Regions from separate parts of the Homo sapiens genome. Here regions 1, 2 and 3 are each reported to be linked to region 4. The links are microRNA targets in miRTarBase. Many come from high-throughput screens and were not tested one by one. Region 4 holds a microRNA gene; each other region holds the end of a gene's coding sequence.

The links. The annotated mature microRNA hsa-miR-3929 reads GAGGCUGAUGUGAGUAGACCACU and lies in region 4 at 1,111-1,133, opposite strand. An mRNA with a match to its seed (bases 2 to 7 or 8) in the 3' UTR can be bound and repressed. Matches are read on the target gene's strand: a 7mer-m8 pairs with bases 2 to 8, a 7mer-A1 pairs with bases 2 to 7 and ends in A, and an 8mer does both.
Region 1: the mRNA of MED7 is a reported target of hsa-miR-3929. The part of its 3' UTR that is shown has no 7-base or 8-base seed match.
Region 2: the mRNA of ARL8B is a reported target of hsa-miR-3929. The part of its 3' UTR that is shown has no 7-base or 8-base seed match.
Region 3: miRTarBase lists PPY as a target of hsa-miR-3929. The part of its 3' UTR that is shown has no 7-base or 8-base seed match.

What each region holds. Positions count from the first base shown.
Region 1 is chr5:157,134,896-157,138,949 of GRCh38, forward strand. It overlaps MED7 (mediator complex subunit 7), which reads right to left. Exons shown (of 2, transcript NM_004270.5): 2 at 2,529-4,054. The coding sequence ends at 3,835. Among named protein-coding and RNA genes, the nearest start is that of MED7, 5.9 kb to the right of the region's middle.
Region 2 is chr3:5,178,500-5,182,553 of GRCh38, forward strand. It overlaps ARL8B (ARF like GTPase 8B), which reads left to right. Exons shown (of 7, transcript NM_018184.3): 7 at 165-2,412. The coding sequence ends at 214. Among named protein-coding and RNA genes, the nearest start is that of EDEM1, 7.2 kb to the right of the region's middle. RefSeq lists an enhancer at 3,594-3,643.
Region 3 is chr17:43,937,088-43,941,141 of GRCh38, forward strand. It overlaps PPY (pancreatic polypeptide), which reads right to left. Exons shown (of 4, transcript NM_002722.5): 4 at 3,717-3,865. The coding sequence ends at 3,841. It overlaps LINC01976 (long intergenic non-protein coding RNA 1976), which reads left to right and starts at 1,174. Exons shown (of 2, transcript NR_136406.1): 1 at 1,174-1,310; 2 at 1,474-1,875. RefSeq lists an enhancer at 960-1,460.
Region 4 is chr18:35,932,978-35,937,044 of GRCh38, forward strand. MIR3929 (microRNA 3929) reads right to left here and starts at 1,165; the gene lies at 1,111-1,165.

The DNA.
Region 1 (4,054 bases), not on the chromosome of region 4:
ATTTGTAGTAGATCTCTCGTTATCGTTAGCTCAGCACCGCTTCCTTCCTCTGAGAGACAGACTGACTCTTCCATAAATAGACATAGCGGGGACTGTGAAATTCTTATGGGATCCAAGTCCCAGTTGATTTGCCCAGTTGCAATCAAGTATACAACCCCTAATTCCTCATGTCTAGCTCGTTAATTAACCTCCCCTCATTTTTTTTAAGTTTGCATTTGAGAGGGAACTCCCAGACAGTGGTAAACATAGAAATACTTAACCCTTAGGAACTGTCAGCTGCCATGTTCTCCACCTACATCATTAAAGAAGTTCATCTGTAAAGAGAATGAAGCTAACAGGAAAGATGGTCTCCAGGGCTACTAACTTAAAACTTCATCCACTTTCTGACCTTCTCATGGTTTATATATTCAACTTATCCTTCAATCAACATATCCCATATCCTTTCTTTTTTTAATTAAATTGTAAGAGAGAGAAGGTCTCACTATGTTGCCCCCATTGGTCTCAAATTCCTGAGCTCAAGTGATCCTCTCACATCAACCTCCCAAAGCACTAGGATTATAAGTGTGAGCCACCGTACCCAGCCCATACCCCATATCCTTTATATAAATTCATCTTTTTGCTTAAATTAGTTCAAGTAGGGTTTTTGTCAGCAGTAACAGAGCACTGATTAATGCAACATTCTGTAACCACTGCACAAGAGAATCATCTTCTGATTTCTTAAAACCAATGCTAGTACCCCAGTCCAAAAAATGAAATCAGAATCTCCGCAGTGTGGGACCTGGGCATTAGTCATTTCAAAAGCTGCTTAAAAAGGTGATCCTTCCAGATATTTCACTTCAATGAATCAATCTTTCAAGAATATTCATTATAAGTAGGTGTGCAGAGATATATTTTAACACAAGATTAAAAAGACCTTATATAAGGCCACTAGAGCTTTTTTTTCATTCCACTCTAATAGCAAGAGTTCATATCAGAACACTTTAGGAATTTATGTCAGGTCCTAGTCACAGACCTGCAAGATCAGATCCTCCCCAATGGCATTTTTTTTTCTAATTTGTTGTAGAGACACGGTCTCACTATGTTGCCTAGGCTAGTCTCAAACTCCTGACCTAAAACCATCCTCCTACCTCAGCCTCCCAAAGTGCTGGGATTACAGGCATAAGCCACTGTGCCTGGCCCCCCAGTGGCATTTTAATCCCTCAACGCCCCTCCCCCCAACACACACACGTTCATATATAAGTAGTGTTGTGGCTCTTATGTGATTCTGTTTTTTACATGCAAAGATTTTCAAAGTGGCCAAAAACTGGTTTTGCACCTCAACCCAACACCTTCCTCAAGGTTCTCAGAGTCAAAGAAAGAGAATTTTCTTTGGAGAGTTGTTCAAGTGCTAAGCAATTTCCACCTTTCTCCCTCACAAGGTGATGCTCCCTACTTCAATTTAAGCTTGAGAGCCTGAACTATGTCCTCTGGAGTCTCTGAGGCCCAAAGGTCTATACCAAACACATTACGTACCAGAAAAAAACAAAAGTTGAGACTAGCCAACCAACTGCCTATCTGATAAAGAAGTGTCTACCTAGGGATAACTTACAGTCCCTGGATCTGTGAAAGCACAGCATGCACATTTCATAGAGAACTGACCTATAGTCATACATATATACATACATACACATATATATATATATTTTAGACAGAGTTTTGCTGTCACCCAGGCTGGAGTGCAGTGGCACGATCTCGGCTCACTGCAACCTCCACCCCTTGGGTTCAAGGAATTCTCGTGCCTCAGCCTCCCGAGTAGCTGGGATTACAGGCGCCTGCCACTATGCCCGGCTAATTTTTGTATTTTTAGTACAGACGGGGTTTTGCCATGTTGGCCAGGCTGGTATCAAACTCCTGACCTCAAGCAATCCACCCACCTCAGCCTCCCAAAGTGCTAGGATTACAGGCATGAGCCACTGCGCCAGGCCCCTTATAATCATTTTAATGTGAACTTTGCTAGCTCTAGGACCAATGAAAGTTTAAGTGAGCAAATCCCTATGCTAGAAACCAGGGGCTAAGGAAGAAATAAAAAAGTAGACATCTGGGGAAAGGCATTGCCTCTCAATGGTTCTTTTTTGTTTTTGAGATGGAGTTTCGCTCTTGTTGCCTAGGCTGGAGTGCAATGGTGCAATCTCAGCTCACCACAACCTCTGCCTCCCAGATTCAAGTGATTCTCCCTGCCTCAGCCTCCCGAGTAGCTGGGATTACAGGCATGCGCCACCAAGCCCAGCTAATTTTGTATTTTAGTAGAGATGGGATTTCCCCATGTTGGTCAGGCTGGTCTCGAACTCCTGACTTCAGGTGATCCACCAGCCTCAGCCTCCCGAAGTGCTGGGATTACAGGAGTGGGCCACTGCACCCAGCCTCAATGTTTCTTAATCTTGAGCATGTATCATAATCACATAGGCTTCTTAAAATACAGCTTGCTGGGACCTACACCCAGAAGTTTCTGGTTCAAAAGGTCTGGGATGGAGCCAGAGAACCCTCATTTATTTTTTATTTTTCTGAACCTACGGATTATACTAAAACTTTTATTTCTAGTAAGTCCCCAAGTGATACCAATGCTGCTGGTCCAGGACCACACACTTTAAGAACCACGGGCCTACATTAAGAAAACGGCAGGCAGAGATCCTCAGACACAAGGTCAACTCTCCACTAACACCTTGGTGGAAGAGCAGATGGACAGTCGGGGGAAGAAGAGAAGAAAGTGCTCATATAAAGTCCAATTAGCTAGGGGCAGAGTGGAGTTACTGAAAGGAAGACTTAGTCCTCACGGTCATTCAAAGAACCAGACTGACAATCTTTGCCATCTTCGGTGGCTTCCAAACTTATCCTGGATACGACCGTCCAACCAGCAGCTGGGAGAAGAGAATGGAGGATCATGCAAGAAATGTTTATGGGGCAAGCCTGGATTCCTATGCCCACATTTCACCGCCTACGACTTAGTCATATGTTCTCACAGAGATGCTGGGAGTAGGGAAATGTCCCTGGCTGGATTGCCACATCTTGACAACATATCTTCAAAGAGCAAGAATCTTTGGTAGACACCTAGCAGTCTCTGCCATCAAACCCCTTTCCCATTGTGGACTTAAACAAGTCTGAGCTTAGCTTTAAAGAAAATGTATAGCTAATGACACAGACATCTTAATTACTAAAATTAATGTCTGTAACTTAAAGTGACCAAAGGACTTATTACCTGAGTGACTGGAAAAAAAAACAACAATTTATGGGACTTCCCTGCAAGAGTCCATTCAGGATAGGGAGAAAAGACTGAGCTAGTGGGTTTACAGAAGCAGTCATGAGGAAAAAATGAAGTTTCTATTTTATAACTCTACTGGGCTCCTCTCTATCAACATGTTATGCTACTTTTTGGAGCTTAAGCAAAATTTTTAATGGAATAAGTCTAAAGATTTCATAGTTTTACATGTAGAGAGCTTAATATCCATTTATCTATCATTCTTAAAGCAAATGCTAAATCCCCTTTTCAAAGACGAAAACTTTGCTATTATTGAGGTTATCATCAAAGTTTTACTGCAACTCTAAAACATAGGAATGTCCCATACAACAGCAGCTAACACTTTGCTTTTTAAAGTGATTCTTCTTAGTGCAGGGACACTCATTTGTCTATGCTTGTTATACAGCGAAATTACTGCCTATGACATCTCATAATTGAAAAATTTGGAGTCAAGATTAAAGCTGTTTACATTTTTAGTGAAACTTCTCTTAAGACTGTCCAAAAGAAAATGAACTAATATATGATGCTATTATCAAAAGGAAAAAAAGAAAAAGAAACATCTTTCATGGTCTTTCATTCATCTCATCAATTAGGACACACAAGGCAGCATCTTTCTCTATAATCTGATCTCTCCTATGACCTGAATTTTCTCTTTGATGTTCATTCTGTCCAGTACAATTGTTGCTATCATCAGCATCCATTGGTTCAGTTTTTACTCTCATTCCTGCTTCTGAATGAGGCAAATCATCAGGCAAAGAAGCCAAGCAATTCTGAATCATTTCA
Region 2 (4,054 bases), not on the chromosome of region 4:
TATTCTCTTGAAGTTCGGGTAATGGAGTATGGTAATGCAGATGCAGAAAAGCAGCAGAGGTCAGGCATAGTGTGTGCCTTGAATTAGCTGCCTTTTAAATATTGTCTCTGTTTGATGTTTAGTTTTTTAACTTTAATGTCTTCACTTTTCCCCTCTATCTTTAGATATCACACTTCAGTGGCTTATTCAGCATTCAAAATCTAGAAGAAGCTGAAGCATCTCCTGAAGTCTTCCAGTCCTTCTTGGCTATAATCCTAGAATTATTGTCCGTTCCTCTGAAGTAATTCCCAGAATACGGTCCTTCCTAAACCCCAGAAATTGCCTTTTTCAGAGTTTATTTCTCATGTGCACTGCTGAAGATGAATATCCCTAATCCTTCATAAAGAATCAGCTAGAGTTGTCATGATAAAGTCAGCACACACAAAAAGGCTTCTTACACATACCTGTCTTAAACCATGTGTAGAGCTTTAAAAACAGAAAAAAAACCCCATATACTTATGACCATCTTAAATCAAGAAAATTGCATATTTCCATTCTGGTCTTTCTGGGCCAGATTTTTATATTGGTTTTCAGTAAATGTCTATCTATAATATTTCATTATAGAGTCCAGTAGCTTAATACTGACACTGACTTGATACAGCATGAAGTTTCTAGTGCCACACACAGTATTTAGAAAACCTTTAGGCGTGAATGACTCATGTGGGATATATGTAAACATAATGTTTATTTTATCTCACAAATGCATGTGAAATGTATAATTACATCTTAGGAATCCAAAATGGTCTGCAGAGAGTGAGCGGAGGCACCAGATCAATGTTGGTTCTTTGCACTGGTGAGATTCTGCCTGATGAATATTAAAGATATCCTGCTTTCTGAGAACTCTATCACCAGATGGCAGTTGGGATATGGGAGGAACTAAAGCATCCTGTTTTGTATCTGTCCAGATCATTATTTCTGTCTCTTGTTTTTTCTTCCTGGTTCAGGATACTTTTTTAAGGGGTTGAGAATTGAAGATTTTCCAAAAGCGTTCATGAATTTAGAGCATTCCACCCAATATAATAAAACCTGTTAAGAATGTCAGTCTTTGTTCAAACATCTGTTTGTTCTATCTCCAGTCATTAAATCAGTGCTGCTGCATGACACTCTTAACTCCTGACTTTTTATATCCAGTCATAAAGTTGACTTTCAGCACAAAAGATACTTATAAACAAATAAAAAATTTTTATTTTTCTCTCTTACTGATGTAAGCTTTGGCACTCTTTTGACTGGTGCCATTAGACATCTTGATTATTGTGACAACTCTAGACCTGCCTGCTTTATCTAATGTAATCATGCTCAATGTCTACAGGTTGTTTAATAATCAGTCACACAGAGAACTGAGGAACTGATGCTGTTTGTTTGCTTCTATGATACAGAGATGTCTAAAAACTTCAAATGGACATGTTTTGTAGTTTAGCGACTTCCGTATACATAAAGGGACATATTAATACTGGTTCATTTGTAAATTATTATTCATATAGACCACTGTAGTAGATAAAACTCTATGGTACACCTGCTTATGTGTTGCCTCACACTGTGTGTGATTTTGTTTCTTTTGTTAAGCAGCACTTATGTAGACTGCATTTCCAAATGTGTTGAGCACTCAGAGTGTAGTCAACAGTAAGTTCTTTTAATGAATATCAGTTTTAATTTATAGACTGCCATGGCCTTAAAAATATTCTGTACAATATACTGCACTGTGTTGCACAGACACTACTTGCTTTTCTCCATTCATATTTTTATGAGTAGAATCTGGGCTTTTAAATTTCTCTTCTTATTCTTTGAAGCATGTTGCATACTACCCTGGTGGGATGGATGGTTCTGTAAATGAAGGGATATTTAAACTTGCTACTGTTGTTCAACACCATTAATGGTCAGTGTGAACCATTACAAAGAATGTGGCAACTTGCTTGTGCCTAAAAGGAGGAATTGGAACTAGAATGTGTGACTCTGTGGGGACTGCATAGGTTTGTTAATTGACCTATAGCTAAACCTTAATGTGTTTGTGTGTCTATACATTGCTTTCCGCATTTCAAGACATCCAGACGCTATTACCAACATTTTCCTGTGCATTAACCTCTGCATGTGAAAACTTTTAACAGTTACTGAACTATGTAAATATGTGAATTTTTTTATTTAGGTGGATGCATTTTTTGTCTGTTTACTGCTCTTCTCAGCTTTATTCAATAAACTTGCATTTTAAGGGTTGTATTGGCAATTTTAACTTAAAATGTGCATCATGATGGAAGGTGCAGACTTTTTTGGAAGTTTCCGAGAGGAGGGTCTATAGACCATTTGTCAGAAATCAGATCAGCCCTCAAAGAATGGGGTCTGTGGGCTAGTTAAAATAGAAATAAACTTTTAAAATATCCACAGAATTGATATTGTGATTTTTTGGGGGCGGGGGAAATGCTACTACTTGTCAACGGTCACAATACACCAAATTTAGGACTTTAAGTGGCAAGTGCTAGTAAAACATTTTATGTCCCAGTTTTTACAAATCAAACCAAGACCCTGCTAAGCAAATGAAGTTGCAAGACATGCCTATTCACTGACTTCAGTTCAGAATGGAAATATTTTAAGTACCGAACATGCTGGTTTTCCCACAAAGGCACATTTTTAGCATAAAGCTTTTTGCTAGTTTGGTATCATCTGCCCATAAAATAAGTCAATACTTGAGCTATTGGAAAAATAATTGTGTATATTTTTATTTGTTTAGAAAGGTTCAGTTAGCATTTTCTCCATACGCATACTACAATTCTGTACAGCCAACCCTTAGTGGCCAGTTGGATGCATGATTTCGCGTTTATTTCCCTGGAACGTCACGTTGATGTGTTTTTGTCTTTTCACTGCATTACTGGAGCCATGTAGTCAAGCATCAAGTTTCATCCACTTCTCACCATTCTCCTACCAAGGGGGTGAGTGTGTGAGAGTTGAGGGTGAGGATGGGGGAACACGGAGGATATACATTTAGCTTAATTCTAAATGTGTATCTGCTTTTAAAAACTTCTAAACTTATAAAGTTGGTCTTTGATTCTGTCAAGTAAATTGGGTGTTTGAGGAACTAACTGCTTTGTCTGTTTGCTCCATGTAGGATTGAGTTACACTGATACCCTGTTGATTTGGTAATTCCAGCTGCTCCAAGGGTCTGGTGGGTTCAGAACTGGAATGGAAGCTTAAACATAATGTAGTGGGCATCATGCTGTAACATCCAGTTGGCCAAATGCTTTACTCTAAAAATGTGCCACAGTGGGGAAAGCACGATGTTTGATGTTTAAAATGTTTTTGTTATGTTACAGACTTTTAAGGTTATGCCCTCAACTGTGCATAGCAGTGAAGAGACTTGAAAAGGAAGACAGTAAAGCCTTACAGACTTCCCTTAAGTTTGCTGCTCTATAAGTATGCAGCCTGCTGCAGGTGTTTCCTGTTGGTTAGTAAATAACCTCCACACATTGGCTGTTTAAAATTCAGCTATTAATAAAAATGTGTACTTTTGTCATTGCTCCTCTTGGGTGTTCTTAGGGAAACCAAAGCAGGTCATTGTCATGGTAGACAGACTGCAATAGGACTCTCTTAAAAATCTAAGCCACAGCAGTAGTCATTTATTATTCCATTCTATTAACCAGCCCTCTCTTCAGTAAGATAATTCTATTTTGAAATCCCAAGGCATCTGGCATTTAGGTAATGCAGATTTCCCAATAATCAGGAGGGGGAAAAGATACTTTAGCTTCATTTTACTGGGGCTTACAGTAGGGATGTAGGAAAAGAGTTGTTAGCTTACGATGCTAATATAGCTTAATTCTGTGGAGAGTACTGGGTTGGCATTTGGGAGAATGGGTTCTTTCCTTGGCCATTAACTGACTGTGTGACTGGTGAGTTGCAGAACCCCCTCATGGCTCCTTAAGTTTTCCCATCTATAAAATGAACAGGAGAGGATTTCTAACCATAACTTCTGCCACTGACAGGCTGATTCTAGCAGCCTAGAAATTTGCTTGGTGGTTAAAAAGAGATACAA
Region 3 (4,054 bases), not on the chromosome of region 4:
TGATCCCGACACTACATTCCAGCCTGGAAGGCAAAAGAAGGCCTTGCCTTAAAACAATAAAATAAAATAAAAAGAAAGAAAAGAAAAAATAGGGCAAAAATAGAGCAAGAAAAAGAGCAAGATGAGGGGTTTGGTTGCAATATTATTTTATTTATTTATTTTTTTAAATCGTAGAGACGGGGCTCTCTGTCTTTTGCCCAAGCTAGTCTTGAACTCATGGGCTCAAGCAGTCCTCCCACCTCGGCCTCCCAAAGTGCTGGGATTACAGGCGTGAGCCACCGCGCCCGGCCAGGTTGCAATTATAAATAGGGGTGTCAGGGTAGGATCCATTTAAAAGGTGGATTTTGAGCTAATGCTTACAAGGGGAGACAGAGCTGGCCATGAGGATGTCTGGAGGAAGAGTCTTCCAGGCAGAGAACAGAGTGACCGTCATTTTGCGGGAACAGCAGGGAGAAAGGAGGGGGATAAGCAAGGAGTTTGCGGGAGAGAGGGCAGTGAGGTTAGGGAGCTGACCAATGGCTTTATGCCGTCCTCATGCGTCCACCTTAGGGTGTGTCTCCTCGTTCGTTTTTTTTTTTTTTTTTTTCTTTTTCTTTTTTTTTTTTTTCTTTTTTTGAGACGAAGTCTGGCTCTGTTGGGCAGGGTGGAGTACAGTGGCGCAATCTCGGCTCACTAAAACCTCCACCTCCCGGGTTCCAGCAATTATCCTGCCTCAGCCCCCAGAGTAGCTGGGATTACAGGCGCCCACCACCACGCCCGGCTAATTTTTGTATTTTTAGTAGAGACGGGGTTTCGCCATGTTGGCCAGGCTGATCTTGAACGCCTGACCTCAGGTTATCCGCCCGCCTCGGCTTCCCAAAGTGCTGGGATTACAGGCGTGAGCCACCGCGCCTCGATGCTCTGCCTGCATCACCGGGCATGTCCAGGTGTGTACCATTCCTCCGAGCACCAGGATGTCCCTTAAGGCGTCCGTGCTCTGGTGTGTGTCCCAGAAATAGACACGACCCTCGGTCTGAGCGCCCCTGCACCCCAGCCTGCCCACCGCGCGGAACACCTGCAAGCTCCGGTCCGGGTGCCGCGCTGACCACAGCCCCGGCATCACGTGACCTCCCGCGGCTCTGTCTGCCCCGCCCCCTCCAGACGCCTGCTCTGCGCTGCGCATTCGCTCTGGCCATAGCGGGCCTCGTGTCGCTGCTGATGCAGCCCGAGGGCGCCCTCGGCGAGGAGCTGCAAGTGCCGCAGCCCAGGGCCGCCAGTTGGCTGAACTTAGGCTCCATCAAGAAGTACTTGGGGAAGCTCTTCAACAGCAGGTGGGCCGGCGGAGGGTGTGAGGAAGGGAGGGAGGGAGGGAGGAAAGCGGGGGGTGGGGGGGGCGCGGGGGGGGGACACGGACGCCACCAGGCACCCCCACGCACATCGCGGCCTGAGCTGGGCTCGGGGAGCGGCCTCATGACTGCAAAGACTTGTTCCCAGCCCGAAGAAATCTAAAAACCACAAGAAAACTGCGAACGCCACGGACACCTCCCCATCAAAAGCCACGAAACCCCCACCATGGACCACCACGAACCCCCAGTGGCTGAACACCTCGGAACCCCGACCACCGACCTCCTCCCGGGGCCCCAGGTAGGACAGCCTGGATGCTGGGCACCGAGCCAGGGGCCTCGGGGCTGGGGGCAGCTTGGGTGCTAGCGAGAGGAAGTTCCTGGGGGCGGGCATGCGGGGAGACACAGCACCCCTGTGGGGGGGGCTTCTTTCTCCAGGCTGGGCCTTGGCCTCCAGACGCCTCTCTGCCCACCAACCCCTTTGTATTGAGAGGGGCCTCGACCCCTCCTCATCCCCTCAGTGAAAACAATAAAGACAAATTTTTGTTGCTTCAGTGACTTCTGTGGGCCTGCGGGCAGGGAGGGACCAGTCCATGGAACGGGAAGTGGGACCCTGTAGTTTCTGCTGTGAGAGAAAAAGACCTCAGCTGTTGGGGGTCCTCCCCTGCCTCCCCTGGCAACCCATCCACCTTCCCCCACTCCACCCACACATGGCCTTGTGGGTCTGGCCCTCCACCCCGTGGTAGAGACACAGATACGGGTCCTGGAGAAGACACTTATTGCCCCTGTAGTCCTGCACAGACAGCACCAGTGTGGGGGGCTCTAACCCAGAGGGAGAGCAGAGGTGAGAGAAGAAACCTCAAAGAAGGGGCTTCAGCTAGACACACCCCAACTCCCACCTGGCTCAAGTTTCTACCAAACAGCCCAGACTCCTCTCCCCATTCACCGCGCATCCCCTTAAGCTGCCAGAGAAAATGCTGGGACTTCAGGCTCCCTCTCCCAGACTCAAACCGTTCTTTTGCGAAACCATCTCTCTATCCAGACATCTTTGGATTTAAGAATCAACCTGAGGCTGGGCACAGTGGCTCACACCTGTAATCCCAGCATTTTGGGAGGCCGAGGTGAGCAGATCGCTGGAGCCCAGGAGTTTAAGACCATGCTGGGCAACATAGCAAGACCCTGTCTCTAAAAAATAAAAAAATTTGCTGGGTGTGGTGGCATGTGCCTGTAGTTCCAGCTGTTTGGGAGGCTGAGGCAGGAGGATCGCTTGAGCCCAGGAGGTCAAAGCTATGGTGAGCTGTGATCATGCCACTGTACTCCAGCCTGGGTGACAGAGCAAGATCCTGTCTCCAAAAACAAACAAAAAATCAATCTGAGCCAAGCAGCTGCATCCTCTAGAAGCTCTTTGCCTTTTAGGACCTGTTTCTACTTCCAGGTCATTTGCACACACCAGATGGAGTAGGACTTGAGGGGAAACACAATTGTGTGTCATTTCCATTTCTGTGCAAGGTGCTGAGCCCAGGAAAGTGGACCCCTCATCCTCCAAACCCATAACCCCATCCCTTGAGACCAAGCATGTGGGGGAGGCAGGAGAAGCCTTTCTAGGAACCAGAAACATTCTAGTTCCCTCACTTCTCCCCTTTACACATGCGCGTACACACGCATGCACACGCGCACTGTCCCCACCTATTCAGGGTGCCTGAGAAGGGCCAGGAAAAGATGGGTTCTCTGGGAATCTGGGAAGTCCTCCCTGGGGCAGGATCCAGGTCCTTGTCCTCCCAGGGCTGGAGTGTACAATCTACAGATTCAACTCATGGTGGCTGGAACTCTCAGCTAATCTAGCCTCCTCCCCTTCCACAGCAGCTTGAATACCTCCTGTGCCCAGGACTTCACTACCTCTCAGGGCAGCCCATTCTCTCCAAATTTCTGGACGGCAGCTCAGGCCCCTGGATGCAGCCATGACTGCCATAGCACCAGAATCGTTCTTCCAGGCTGGGCTGTGCCCCTGCCCCCATGCCAAGGGTGCTTTCGTATAAATTTTGGTGCTTCTGCTGCCTAGGCTGCAGTAAGGCACTGGTGAGGGGTGCACTTGGGGAAGGGTTGTCATCAGGCTGTGTCGGGAAGGTCTATGGGTACTGAACTGGGAAGATTCAAGACTGCCACTTCACAGACTTGCTGAAGGACCATCTGCTCAGAGGAGTCCCTGCCTTCCTCTGGCCACCACTTTTCCCTCTGCGAAGGGGAGAGGATGAGTTGAGTGACTCTGATGACCCCCGCCAACGTTCTGGATGATCCCCTTTTCCTCTGCCCTGCCCTGCCCTCCCCTTTCTCTCCCATGCATTTGGCACTTCCTGCTGCCCCCACCAGGGGTCCACAGAGACACAGGACAGGCTGTGGCTTTGACTTGCTTTATTGAGCCTGTGTGGGAGCAGGGAGCAAGCTTTGGCCAGAGCCAAGGGTGCAGAGGGGAGAGCTGGGCTGGCGCTGCTCATGGAGTCGTAGGAGACAGAAGGTGGCATTATAAGTCCAGCGGGCTGAGCTCCCTGTGAGGACAGGGCAGAACATGGCAGTGTAGGGGGTAGGCCTCGTGCCCTCAGGAGGCCTCAGGCTGGCCCTGGGCTCCTGTTCTCCCTCTTCCACCCCCCACTACACCTTTCCAAGCCCTGATTCAGTCCCACCACCCCCATTTCAGCTCCAGGGAGCTGGACAGACAGGGCAGGGAGTCAAACTCA
Region 4 (4,067 bases):
CATTGTTTGCAAAGAGAATCCTGAGGAATTTATGTAAAAATAGCAAGGTCACAGAATACAAGATCAATCTGAAAAAATCAATTATATTTCGATTTACTACCAGCAAAAAAAAAGTTTAAAAACCAATTTTATTTATAATGATATCTAGAACATTAAATACTTAGAAATAAGGTTAACAAAAGGTATTTAATAACTCTATGCAGAAAACTATGAATTTAGAAGACCTAAATACATGGAGAGGCATTTCATGTTCATAAGTTGAAAAACCCAATGCTTTTATAATATACAGTCTCCTCAGATTGATCTATAGATTCAATGCAATCTGACTGATAATTAGGTCAAGTTTTCAGAGAAACTGACATATTGATTCTGACATTTATATGGAAATACTAAGGTCCTAGGATCTCTAAATTAATACTGACAAGACAGAATATGAGGACTTCCACAACCTGAGTTTGAGGCTCCAGTAGCCAAGCTAATGTACACAAAGCAAGTTTATGCAAATACATGAATAAAACACAACAGGCAGCCTAGACCTAGACTCACACCTATAAGGTTACTTAATGACTGACAAAGCCACCGAAGCTCCAATGGGAAAAGTAAGCGCTTTTCTAGAAATGATGCTGGAAAAATAGATATCCATATGGGGAAGAAAATGAATCTCAATTCCTATCTCAACTCATGCACAAAATTAATTCAATATGGATGATAGACCTAAACATAATACAGCTAAAATTATAGTAGTCCCCCTTTAACCACAGTTTTGCTTTCCATGGTTTCAGTTACCCTCAGCCAACCAAAGGGACATGTGGCTCATCATCCACTCACATCCAAAAAACTAAAAGAGAAATTTTAGAAATAAATAATTCATCCCTTTTTAAAAAAATTTTTTTGAGACAGAATCTCACTCTGTCACCCAGGCTGGAGTGCAATGGCGCAGTCTTGGCTCACTGCAGCCTTGGTCTCTCAGGCTCAAGCAATCCTCCAACCTCAGCCCCCTGAGTATCTGGGACTATAGACATGCACCACCACGCCTGGTTAATTTTTGTATTTTTTGTAAAGATAGGAGTTCGCCATGTTGCCCAGGCTGGTCTTGAACTCCCGGGCTCAAGTGGTCTACTCACATCAGCCTCCCAAAGTGCTGGGATTACTGGTGTGAGCCACTGCACCTGGCCAACTCATACGTTTTAAATTGTGTGCTGTTCTGAGTAGCATGATGAAATCTCAGGCCATCTGTCCCGTCCCTCCTAGGATGTGAATCATCCCTTTGTCTCGTGGATCTACACTGTAGATGCTACCTGCCTATGGGTCATTTAGTAGCCATCTGGGTTATCAGATCAACTGCCGTGACATCACAGTGCTGATGTTCAAGTAACCCTTATTTTAGTTCGTAATGGCCCCAGTGTGCAAGAATAGTGGTGCTGGCATATCATTATAATTGTCTGTTTTATTATAATTTGCTGTAATCTCTTCCTGTGCCTAATTTATAAATTAAACTTTATAATAATATAATATTATATATAATATAATATAATTTATAAATTAAACTTTATAATAATACATATAGGAAAACAACACAGTATATATACAGTTCTTTAGTATCCATGGTTTCAGGTATCCACTGGGGGGTCTTGGAATATGTCCCCAGCAGATAAGCAGGGTATACTATATAGAACTGTCAGGAGAAAAATATTTGAAACCTGAGAATAGGCAAAGATTTCATAGGTCACAATTATAATGATATGCCAGCATCACTTGTCCATGACAAGGTGCTTTACAGAGGCCATTGTCTCCTTTTAGCTAGGCAGTGAAAAGCACATTACAAGTAAAGAAAACAGCAGTTTTCTTAGACTGTTTACTTTGCAATAAAGGAATACCTGAAACTGGGTAATTTATAAAGAACAGGGGTTTATTTGGCTCATGCTTCTGCAGCCTATACAGGAAGCATAGGGCCTCAGAAGCTTCCAATCATGGCAGCAGGTGAAGGGGAGCCAGTATATCACGTAGTGAGAGAGGGAGCAAGAGAGAGAAGGAAGTCTCAGGCTCTTTTAAATAACCAGATCTTGGGCGAATTGGTAGAGCAAGAACTCCCTCATTACTGCAAGGATGGCACCAGGCCACTCAAGAGGGATCCACCCCTGTGATGCAAACACCTCCCACTAGGCCCACCTCCAACATTGGGGTTGCCATTCCAACGTGAGATTTGTAGGGCACAAGTATCCAAACTATATCAATGTCCTCTGAGTGTGTGTGTGTGCACGCGTGAACTCATGGGGTTTCTTATTCTCATAAATTCTGGCAGTCCTCTATTAATTACTTACTTCAGACACAAATTATAACCAGATATGGGACAATATAGTTACTAGGGAAAAAAGTTTACTTTCTAAAAAGAATTGGCATATTCTTTGGTTAATTAAGAGGAGAAAGTATCCAGAACCCTTTTCCAGTTCTCTTTGCAGAAGCGTATAATTGCTTTAAGGGTCTTTCTGGCGAAAAGTGATTAGAGGATACATTCCGCCAAGCACCAGGCTGCTCCCTCGGCATGTCCCCCACTTCTGCTGATGCACTAACGTGTCTCAAATCAGTTGCCAATTGGCAGGTGAATCCTATAAAACTGCAAACCTCTGGTGGAGAAACATTATATAAAAGGAATGTAATTGCAGGAAGCTTTCCACCTGCCCCATTCTAGAGGCATCGCAAAGCAGATTTTGTCTAAAGGCTTACCAGAAAGTGAGAGGGCTCCAAAAGGACTTAGAAGGCCCATCAAGCACAACCTGGCATTGTTCATCCCTAATAATTATATGTGCAGAGTTTTATAGTAGCTCTTCTCCTAGTGGTTCTTTTCATCAGCCTTGTCAATGGAGTGAGAATAAACCTCCCTTCCTGTCTGCCACCCCACCCCACCCCCACTGTGAAGCACCTGGGTTTTGTGTGGGGTTGACTCCCCCGTGCATCCCAGCATCAGCCCGGGCCTGACCAGTCTAGCCCAATCAGGGCATCCCCCACTCCCCTTGCTGTGGTATTTTGTTCAGGGATGAACTCCTGCAGAGAGAGTATGTCTTCATCAGAGACAACTGGCAGGCCTGCCCTGCCGAGGAAAGCCAGCCTGAAGACAAAGCCCACACAGGGCAAGAGAAACTAAGAGAAGTTAAGACAGAACCAGAACCCTGATCAAACCACACCTGGAGCCCACCAAGCATTTGTGTCGCAAAAACTTAGTGAATCCCATCTAATGTTCAAACCTGTGCATTGGATTAGGTTTTTAGTACCCTGCACCCAAAACCTCCTCACTAAAATACTACATATCCTCTGAAATATTAAACAAAAGAGAATGGAAACTACCAACTACTCATGTAATGAGTTTTAGAAATCCTGGCCTTGAAAGATGTTGTGTTCAGGAACGACTATATAACCAACATAGGTTGTATATTTTCATGGGGCAATGACACCTCTAATAATTCACGCATCATTTTCTACTCACGCACTGCTTACTTCTATAAGGATTTCACATGGCTTACAACAAAATACCTATATATTAGGATAATAAAATAAGAGTTAATTATCCAGGGGAAAAGATGGATATATCAGAAAACATCAGTGAAGTATAACTCTTAGGTTGGAACATACAATTTAGCTCCGAGCATTCTGTCAGCCAAGGTTAAAATTATTACAGGTTGAGTATCCCTACTCTGGAAAGCTGAAATCTGAAATGCTCTAAAATCCAAAACTTTTTAAGTACCAACATGATGCTCAAAAGAGACGCTCATTGGAGCATTTCCAATTTTAGATTTTTTGACTTAGGGATGCTGAACAACTAAATGTAATGCAAATATTCCAAAATCTGAAAAATATTGAAATCTGCAACACTTCTGGTTTCAAGCATTTCAGATAAGGGATACTCAACTCAACCTGTATCTTACTATCTGAAAAAGAAAAATATCTATGTTTGCTGGGAGGTATGACGCTTTTTCCTAGCAGTAGTAAGTAAGCTCTAGAGCAGCTGTAGTCAGTTTGGGAAGTTTAGGCCCTTGAATGCTGACATTAGCTGAACCACTTTAGCTTATCTG